2 separate regions of the Homo sapiens genome follow, and region 2 is linked to region 1. The links come from fine-mapping of genetic effects on gene expression. A gene starts in region 1. The other region holds a variant in brackets. All regions are shown on one strand. Distances are from middle to middle.

Region 1 (5,348 bases):
TGTTTTTTGAGAGGTAGTTTTGCTCTTCTTGCCCAGGCTAGAGCGCAATGGCGCGATATCGGCTCACTGTAACCTCCGCCTCCCAGGTTCAAGCAATTCTCTTGTCTCAGCCTCCCATGTAGCTGGGATTACAGACACCTGCCACCACGCTTGGCTAATTTTTGTACTTTTAGTAGAGACAGTTTCACCATATTGGCCAGGCTGGTCTCAAACTCCTGACCTTAGGCAATCCACCCATCTTGGCCTCCCAAAGTGCTGGGATTACAGGCTTGAGCCACTGCGCCCAGCCTAACAGAAGTTCTTGGGGCTGCCTAAGTCAGAGTGTCAGGTTTCTGTTGGGCTGCAGGAACCCATTCAGGGCTGGCTAGAGCTTGTGCCTGATTATTCTGGAATCTGAATGCATCCTAGTAAAATGGTATTTGGAAGAGAGTAGAATTGGTATAGGTCTCCAAAACTCCAACCTACACATCTGCCTGCAGGTGTGTATTCAGATTCCCTTAATCTCCTATATTTCCATCCTTCTTCATCCTTCATCAAAGCTGACCTTTTCTTATTTGGGGAACCACTTTCATGCTGAAGCCCTAAAGCATACGCTGAGTCTGACCCTTGGAACATCAAAATCAAGTCTCAGATTTTTCTAGCCTGCAGGTGAGCAGTTCAGAAGCTTATTTCCAAACACAAACGCTTTAGATAGTTGGAAAAGAGGAACTGAAAATAATGGTCTTCCATACCCTATGACAACATTTTAGAGCTAGAAGGGTTTTTTTTTAATAGTAATGTTCTCAGTCCCCTAGTTTACAGATGGAGACTCAGGAGAGAGGGCTAGAAATTTCTTGCTACTAAACAGTGTGGCCCAATGGATTGGTGCACCCTGGCATAAGGAATATGTTTACTGCACCATAGCCTCATTGAAGGTCCCCGCCCCGGCCTTTTTTTTTTGAAGCATTCACCTAGGGAGACATAGGTAGGATGCATGTCTACACGTAGGAAATGTGCAGACTAGATAGCAAGCTCCATGGGGCAGGAACCATGAAGGGCCTTGTACCTGAGCATACCCCCAGTGCCTGATGCAGGGCCTAGTGCACACTCAAATGTTGGTTGACTGGCCGGGTGCGATGGCTCATGCCTATAATCGTAGCACTTTGGGAGGCCAAGGCGGGCAGATCGCTTGAGGTCAGGAGTTCGAGACCAGCCTGGCCAACGTGACAAAACCCCCGTCTTTACTAAAAATACAAAAAAATTTAGCTGGGCCTGGTGGCACACACCTGTAATCCCAGTTACTCGGGAGGCTGAGGCACAAGAATTGCTTGAACCCGGGAAGCAGAGGCTGCAGTGAGCTGAGATTGCACCACTGCACTAGCGCCTGAGCCACAGAGTGAGACCCTGTCTAAAAAAAAAAAAAAGTTGGCAGACTGAATGCTGGAAAGAAGAAGGACCTGGCTTTGTCCCCACACCAATCTGGTGGGCGAGTACAGAATGTAAACTGTCTGGAGGTTGGCATTGGCCTAGCTTCTCCGTTGCTCTCTTGTTCTCTAGAATCCAATCAAGCACCTGTGGCCAGAGAGCTGTGTGAAATGGAAACCAGTCCCACCAGCCCCTGATTGCACCCCCGCAATGTCTTCTCGCCCTGTTTAATGTCATGTCCAAACTCCTGGCCGCCGTGGCCTGTCTCCACCTCTCCAGCTTCCTCGCTTGGCCTGTCTCCTTAGCTCTCTCTGTCTCACCCACACTGGCCTGCAACTCGCCAGAGTGCCCCAGGCTTTTCAGCTTTTGCACGGGCCCTTCCCTCTCCAGGCTCTCTCCCCTGGATCTTTGCTTCAGCTGCTCCTTCTTGACATCCAGGTCTCAGACCAATGGCCCCTTACTCAGAAGGCCTAGCGCAGGCCGCCTAATTTCACACAGTTCTCCCCCTTCCCGCACTGCCTTCCATCACCTCGTTTCATTTTCTTCGTGGCACGGAGCACCATCTCCAATGGCCTTGTTCATTTAGTTAATTTATTTTCCGACTTAGTTCCAGGTGCTAAAACAGTGTTACCTTGGCAGGCTTCCCATCAAATATTGTTGCGCAAAGGATGGATGGATGAAAGGAAGAGTGAGCCAATAAACGAGGGAACGCCGGGAAAGGCAGCCTCAAGCCGGTGGGCCCTGCCACCCCCACCGTCCCTGAGCATCCGAGCCGGTTCCCGCCCCCGGCCCGAACTGGCCCGCGCGCGCTCGCAGCCCCGCGGCGGAACCCGAGGGCGGCGGCAGCGGTTTCCCTTGAACGAGCCGGGGAATCTGGAGGGAGCACACAGGAAAGGCAGAGCCGCGAGCTGGACCAGCCGTGGTGAGTGCAGCGGCGCCCAGGCGGGGAGCGCAGTGCGGGTCGCTGGGACTGAGCGCGCGAGCGGGGTGGGAGTCGGGATGGGGGCCCGGGGCGCTGGGCGGAGCCTCTGGAGTCGCGCTGGGCCGAGAGCCGCGGGGACCCAAGCATCAGGGGTCGTGGGTGCAGGCGGCGGCGCGGCTTGAGGGTAGGGGGTGCGGGCCTGGCCGGCGCGGCAGGGGAGGGCCTCGCGCGGATCCCGTGGTCACGGCGGGAGTCAGCTGTCCTGGGTTCGAGTCCCAGAGCTGTCGCTAACTTGTGGACCCCCCTCACTTCGTCCCTTGGGCTTCAGCATAGCCCTTTGCAAAATGGGGCCAATAGTATCAGATCCATTGATGGGTTGGTTGGTTCATTCATTCTGGCGCTTTACTAGGTTCTGGTGCTGCAGATGGATAGACGAACTTGCCCATGAGGGGTTCACTATCTAGTAAGAAAAACATTTCCACCTGGATACTCCACAGGCGTGTCAAATTCAGTATCTCCTAAACCGCACTACTTTTCTCCACAAACCTACCACTCAAATCTAAATGACTGAAATCACTATTCAACCAGTCACCCAAGCACAAAAACCTGGCTTGGTTCCTCCTCTCTCACTTACTACAGTCAATGGACCACCAACTGCTGCCAATTTCTACTTTCTAAAGCTTTCCAAATCCATCCTTTATCTTGGTTTGTTCTTTTAGGAGCCTACAGATTATGGCAATAACTTCCTAATGGTTCTCTTTAGCTTTAATTTTAGCTTCTTCCAGTTCATTTTTCATTCTGCTATAAAGTGGTCTTTTAACAGTTCAAATATGATTATATCACTCACCTGCTTAAAGCCCATTAAAGGTTTTTCATTGTCTTCAAAATAATAGCCAAAGTCCTTAGTGTGGGTTCAAGGTCTTTTCTAATCCCACCTGGTCTTCAATCCTTTATCTCTAAACCACTGTTTCTCAAAGTCTGGTATAGTGGTGACCTCCATTGCAACCAACATGGGAGTACTTGTTAACAAGTGAAGATGACAGCTTAATTCCAGAACAAATGAGACTCTTGCGGGAAGGGGCAGTTCCCAGGATTCTGTGTTTTTAACAAGTTCTGCACTAAAGGTTGAGAACCCCTGTTCTAGACACTCCAATTTTTACTCCGCTGTTGATGAGATTCAGGACACACTGCCGCAAAATATGACTCGTTGGCATTAGAGGAAACAACTGAAGCAGGAAAGTCACTTTGTGTCTTCCCACTTTTCTCCCCTGAAGCAGGCCATAAAAGAATTGTTTGACCTTCTTCTGTATAAGACCCTTCAGTGAGAGGTGCTCATCCTGTAAGTATAGGATCGAGGAAAGGAATGCCCTTATCTTTGAAGACACAGGTACACAGAGAAGAATCAGAACAAATAGGCCTTGCTAAATTCTCCCCAGCGTATTACTGTTAGATCATACCCCCTTTTTCCAGTCTCAGCCATGAACCTAATTCTCCCCTCAACTATCTACGTATGTTTCTCTCAACACACTTTACTGTCTTTTATGCCTTTGTACACTCTCAGTTTGGGCTACTGTAAAAAAAAAATAGCAAAAACTGGGTGGCTTAAACAACAGAAATTTAATTCTCACAGTTCCGGAGGCTGGAAGTCCAAAGTTAAGGTGCCAGCATGGTTGAGTGCATGGTGATAGCTCTCTTCCTCGGTTTGTAGAGATCTGTCTTCTTGCTGTATCCTCACAATGCAGAGAGACCATCTCTGTAGTGTCTAGTCTCATAAGGACACTAATCCCTTTCATGGGAGCCACTCTTATGACCCAATTATCTCCCGAAGGCTCTATCTCCTAATACCATCTCAATGGGGATAGGGCTTCCACATCACCATTTTTGGGGAACACAGCATTCAGACAATAGCATCCACAAAACTCCTTCGTTACTTTAGTGATTTCCTCCTCATTATTCAAGGCTCAGGGAAGACTTCATTGACTGTGCACCACCCCCTCAGCCCTAGACCAGGTTAGGTTCATTCTTGCAGACTCTCACAAAGCCTTGTGCTGACTCCTCGACATTTATCCCACTGTACTGCAATCATAATTGTATAATTGTGTTAGCATTGTGGGTTTGACAGTTGTGAGCACTTGAGAGAACGCATGAGACCCATTCTTCTCTGCCCTCACCCCCAGCACAGAGCCTACCATATAGGTGTTTATTAAAGGGCTCTTGAATGAAGGAGTGATTTAGGGCCAGATGGAGAGGAGTTCAAGAATTAGTTGGGCCTTTGGAATCATGTGTCAGCCTGACGGTGTATGGGATTCACAGGAAGATGGTCTCCCTGGCACTGGCTTCACTGCTGCTTTTGATAAGGATGTTTCTACCCTTGAGAGGAATTTTAACCAATGGGATTTAAAGGGAGTCATAAAAGAACTGGACTTTTAAGTGGAAACAGTTTTTTTTTTCTTGGTCTATATACCTCACTAACAGATAGTCATAAAAAAATTTTGCTTAAATTTTTGTTTATCTAGAAAATAAGTTCATTTTCAAAAACTTAGAAAGTACATTGCAATTTTAAAAATAAACATCACCCACCATTCCACAACCTAGAGGGATCTACTTTAAAATTTCGTTTTTGAGCCAGGTGCAGTGGCTCACGTCTGTAATCCCAGCAATTTGGATGGCCAAGGCGGGAGGATTGCTTGAGGCCAGGAGTTTGAGACCAGCCTGGGCAACATAGTGAGACCTTGTCTCTAACAAAAAAAGGAAAGAAAAAAATTAGCCAAGTGTAGTGGTATGTGCCTGTGGTCCCAGCTACTTGGGAGGCTGAGGCAGGAGATTTGTTTGGGCCCAGAAGTTATAGTGAGCTATGATTGTGCCACTGGACTCCATCCTAGGTGACAGAGTGAGACCCTGTCTAAAAAAAAAAAAAAAAAAATTGTTTTTGTTTAATTGTATTGGTTTTCTTTTTAAATTTATACTCATGTTTGAACATAATTGGTATAATGCCAATTATATATGGCTTTTTATCCTGCTA
Region 2 (5,379 bases), 110 kb before region 1:
ATTTTCTGTGGAAAGTCCCACAAAACTGTGATCAAGGCGTCAGCTGGGGCTGGGTTCTCATCTGATGTTTGAGGCCCTCTTCCAAGATCACAATGTTGGCAGAATTCATTTCCTTGCAGCTGCAGAACTCAGGGAAGTTTGCTTATTCAAGGCCAGCAAGAGAGAGAATCTCTGACTTCTTCCATCTCTGACCTCTAGACCCTCTGTTTGTTTGATTTTTAATAGACCTTATTTTTAGAACAGTTTTAGATTTACAGAAAAATTGAGCAGATTGTAGACTTCCCATAGTATCCTCTGCCACTGTATCCAGTTCCCTGTATTATTAACATGTTACATGATTATGATACATTTGTTATTACTAATGAGTAAATATGTACATTATTATTAGCCAACGGCCCCAGCTGACTCCGATTCCCTCAGTTTTTACCTGATGCCCTTTTCTGTTCTAGGATCCCGTTCAGGACACCACACTGCACGTCATTCTCGAGTCTGCATAGGCTCCTCTTAGCTGTAGCTGTTTCTCAGACTTTCCTTGTTTTTGACGATCTTGGCAGTTTGAAAGAGTACTAGTCAGGCATATTGTAGAATGCTCTTCTATTGAAACTTGTCTGATGTTTTTCTCACGATTAGACTGGGTTAGGGGTTTTGGGGAGAAAGAGGTAAAATGCCATTTTCATCACATCATTTCAACATGATTTATGACTGTTGATATTGTCCTGATCATGTGTTTCTCAAGTTTCCACACTGTAAAATTATTTTTCCCCCATTTCCCATGACTTCCTCGGAAGGAAGTCACCACATGCAGCCCACGCTTGAGGAATGGGGCGTGAAGATGGAGTGCTGCGATGGAGATGCTCCTGTAGGATGGAGTAGCTATCTAATTTGGAATTCTTCTGCGTGGGAGGAGGTCTGTCTCTTCTCCCCCATTTATTAATTTATTCAGTCATTTATACCAGTGTGGACTGATGAGCATTTATCTTACACTTTGGGTTTAATCCAATACTACCTTCTTTTGTTGCTCTCATTGGTACAGCTTTGGCCATTGGGAGAGCTTTCTGTTGGCTCCTGTGCCTGTTTGAGATACCCCCATCAATGTGGGTTTTGGTTTTGACTACTTTTTTATTGTTTGCTTGTTGGAGCACTTAGTTTTTGGCAGGCTTATCTTATATATTTCCTGCCCTAGACCTAGAATCAGCCGTTTCTTCAAGGAGCTCTGTTTCCTTTTATTAGAGAAAGGTATCAGAAACCAAGATATGGGTGATTGGGTGCTAGGTATCTGAAATGTTTTTAACATTCTGGATTTGTTCACTGTCTCTCTCCCTGAACTTAGATATATGCTCCATGATCTCCAGAACTTTGTCTGCTTTCATGAAGGGATACCTTCCCTAAGGTATCACTAATGTCGGGAACAATGTCTGTGCTCTTAATAAATATTTGTGGAACAAATATATAGGAAAAGTGAATTGTGTGTAACAAACAAAATATTTTGGTTTTGTCTCAATAGAGCAGCAATTCTTCAGTAAAATACCCCATCTTATCTTCTGTTCCTATTCTAATCATCTCCCCTTTCACAAGATTTCTTGTCCTCTTGTTGTCTTTATTTGAACAGTCCAAGGATCTACTTCTGTTATAAACTATCTCAAATTCTTTTTGGAGATAGAGTATGAATTACACTTGAATTCATGAAGAGCTTTCTGTCTTGAACTTGGACTCATAGATATAAAATAAAAGGGACTTTAGAGACCAACCAGTTCCACTTCCTTGCGTCACCAGGTAAAAGTAGTCATGTCAAGTTGTCCTAGGTCACCTGGCCAGTGAGTGGCAGATGAGAGCTGGAGCCCAGCCTGGGACCCAGCCTGCTTTCTTGCATCCCCAGCCCTGCCCCTGCTTTTGGCACCCCGTGTTGAAGATCTCCCATGTTCAACCCCGTGTTGAAGAAGCAGGGGCCCCACAGCCCCTGCTTCTTCCCACACTAGCACAACTCTGGTTCTGGGCTTCTAAGTGGGTGCCAGTATGTGTCATTCACTCTGTGTCTCCCTCTCTCCCTTCCCTCCTTTCACAAAGCACAAAGGGGCATATGGAGGAGACCGCGGCCAGAACCAAGGGCACGGGTGGTAATGAGAAAAGGAAATCATTAAAGTTT[C/T]TTTTCCTACCACCTGTGATCAGTGTGACCTTTTATACCTTCCCAGTCAGTCAGGGGGAATGAAGAGAATGCCCTAAAGAAGCTCAGGCTATTATGTGTGAGTGATTGCAGTGATTTGCAAGCCGATGATGCCACATGTCTGGCATCTATACCCGCTCCACCAAGCTCACCAGAGAGCAGTTCAGCTGTGTGATGAACCCCCAGACACTCAGCATAACACTCTTCTGCTGCTAGACAAAGACCTTCATGGAGGCCTGGGCATTCTGAAAATATACAAGCCTAAAATGAGAAGTCCAAGGCAATGGCCATCTTGCCTGGAGGACTGTTTCTTTTAGACAGTAAAATGATTTAAGGGATCTTATAGAACAACATTCAGGTTTCCCCACCAGCCTTTCCCCACTGTTATTCCTAGCTTGCTGTACTTAGAAACATGCTAGGATGATGTTTCAAAGTAATTAAAAGTAATGACAAAAATGGCAGTTACTTTTGCACAAACCTAATATAAGTTCAGGAGGCATTATATCTCAAACTTCATGACTCTTAGGTCAGAGAGGGGAGACATGGAGTAAAAGGACCATATAAGTTAGATATTTTGGGGAGGGAGAATATATTCAGTAAGCTAATGACTTACTATGAGACAGGCTTACAATAAACCCTTGATAAATGGTGCTGTTACTGTTACATGTATAGCCTAAGTGAAGTCCATTTTAATAGGCAGAGAAGTATCTGTGAGCTATCATGGTGAATCAAGGGCAACTCTGGCATAAAACCCATCTTCTTACCCTGCCAATCTGCTTTTATAGTTTTATGTGAGATTTCACTAGAACATCACAACTCATCTCTTGACTTTTTGTCTTATAATCTTTCTTTCAAAATCCTGATTAGAGACTCACAAACTACTTCATACCCTGGAGCGTATCTTGCCTCTTGGAAAGTGCAGATTTCAATATTTATTAGCATTTGATGATTACAATTAAAACAAATCAGGGAGGGGGTAAGTCATGTCACTAAAAGACATTTGAGGGAGAAGACACATTGTCAGGAGGACTAGGAAATAACATCCGGGTTTACCTAATGTACCTCACGTAGAATGAGTGGCCAGGATGCACCACTTCAGTAACCCAGGCAGCAGGAGGGCCTCATTTTCACACTGAAGCTGGGGCAGACCCAAAGGAGTTTCACCTTTGCCACCCAATGGGACCTACCCCTTCTACAGATGTGGGGTTCAGAAGAGAACAGGGAGCAGCCTTATCCAGATGAATCCAAATCTGGTCAGCAATTAAAAGCCTTGTCAGAATTCCCCATCACTCGCCTGCCAAGCCTTCAGGAAAGCCACAGTGCCACATGTTCGCCAGAGCAGGAGGAGTCTTTGTCATTGGCTTTCTGGATGGAAATGCTAAGACAGAGCAGCCCCTGGAAGGAAATGCAAAGGAGGATGGTTGGTGAAGGCATCTCAGAGAGTTTCTTTGGGAAGAGCCAACCCTTGTCTACACTTGCACATGAGCTGTCTTCCATTCTCTGCCTCTTGATTGGGGGTGAGAGTCCTAGTTAAGTGGAATCACCCAATTGAAGAGGGAATTATGGTTTTGTCATGGAGAACCAGTCCAGGACCAAAAGAGTCTTGGACTAGCCATGTGGCCCTAGGAAAGTTTCTTATCCATTTTTCATGCCTTGCTTCAATTTTCTCATCTATAAAAGAGGTCCAATAACAGGACACACTTCAGGCACAGCTATGAGACTTGCAGAGTTAATACATGTGAAGGGCTCACAACAATGCCTGGCATTGTGCTGAATACCTTTTAAGTTATTATTATTATTTAGCTACTGAAGTACTTCTTTTTTTAAATAACCACCTTTAGTGACACTGCCCTGAGCAGCATCATCCCATCACTACCAATGCCACACAAACGCACTACATGCCATCGAGATGAAAAAGAAGAAATCTTTAGACAGGTAATGTCTCTCCGACTGATCACCCGTACTCATTCATTTATTTGTTTGCTCAATAAATACTGATTGCCTATTATGTGCCAGACACTGTCGAGGCACCTAGGATACAGGGAAGAGCAGGATAAAGTCCTCAGGAAGCTTACGTTCAAGTTGGAGAGACAGACCAAAAGCAAGTGCCATAAAAATATAGTGCGATGTTAGGTGATAAGAACTATGGAGAAAAATAAAGCTGGGAAGGTGATAGAGATGGGGGCATGGCTGTTGTTAGAGAGGGCTTGGAGGGCCTATCAGTGGTGGTGATGTTTGAACAGGGCTTGAATGTAGGGGGCAGGAAGCCATAAGAAGACTTGGGGCAAGATCATGCCAGGTAAAATGAGCAGCAAGGAGAAGGGGCCTGGGAGAGGACTGAGCCTGTTGGGTCTGAAGAAGTTGAGTGAGAGGATGACCGTGATGGGAGCAGAATGAGACAGAGATGACTCCGCCAAGAGCAGATCATTAAGGGCCTCAGAGGCGTGGGCAGGGGCTGATGGACTGAGGGGCGTCCATCCGCATTCTGCTTGCTCTGCTCTCTATCTGTTTCACAGCTTGCCCTGGGCTTCTTTCCTGGGCAATCATTTGATACCGTGTGACTTTTATCAACCTCTCTGGCTATGTCAGCCTCTCTACCACCTGCCACTCCCAGTTCCAGTGAGTGGGGTGCTGTGTCTGTCCATATCTGGAGAAGCCCGAGCAGGGTTAGGGGCTGGCATGTGCCCCCTGAAGGTGTTGCAGGGGCAGCCGCACCATCTAGCCTGTACCAGCTATACAATTTGTGGGGCCCAGTGCAGGATGAAAACCCAGGATGTCTCGTTCAAACATGATTAAGAATTTCAGGACAGCAACAGTAGAGGATCCAAGCAAGTGGGCGACTGCATAGATCACATGCCCATGAAGCCAGTTCTGCCTCTAGCATTGTCCCACGCTTAAATGCCCTGAGCCCGGAACTCCATAGACTTTTGCTGCAGGGGCTCCCAGAGATCTTAAGAAACCAGATCTCGTCTCTATTCTGCTTGTAAACCCCCTTCTCCCTAACCAGTCTGCTGTGCTTAAGACCACCGCTTGCCTTTGATGACTGAATAATCACACAAAGCATGTGTGCCTCTTTCCTTATGTCAAAAGCTACTCCCCAAATATTGAGAACACAACCTGTTAATCAGGAAAAGCTGTTAATAAGACAATTGCTTTCTGTGATAAGAGAGAATGTACCTTGAAAAACTTTGGCAGGGCCTCCAGGGGAGGGAGTAAGA

Which allele goes with the higher level. Alleles are on the strand shown, and positions count from the first base shown. SD is a standard deviation of normalised expression in the study named.
For the expression in caudate of the gene that starts at base 2,236 in region 1, allele T in region 2 goes with a higher level than allele C (large effect, 1.0 SD a copy in GTEx).

Evidence for each region.
Region 2: its variant is fine-mapped to the expression of AGK-DT in caudate (GTEx, PIP 0.97).

The regions. Positions count from the first base shown.
Region 1 is chr7:141,549,109-141,554,456 of GRCh38, forward strand. AGK-DT (AGK divergent transcript) reads right to left here and starts at 2,236. Exons shown (of 6, transcript NR_183408.1): 1 at 2,036-2,236. It overlaps AGK (acylglycerol kinase), which reads left to right and starts at 2,302. Exons shown (of 16, transcript NM_018238.4): 1 at 2,302-2,326. RefSeq lists silencers at 2,097-2,186, 2,367-2,546.
Region 2 is chr7:141,442,902-141,448,280 of GRCh38, forward strand. The region is part of intron 3 of TMEM178B (transmembrane protein 178B); the gene reads left to right. Among named protein-coding and RNA genes, the nearest start is that of AGK-DT, 110 kb to the right of the region's middle. The variant C/T (reference allele first, on the strand shown) is at 2,144.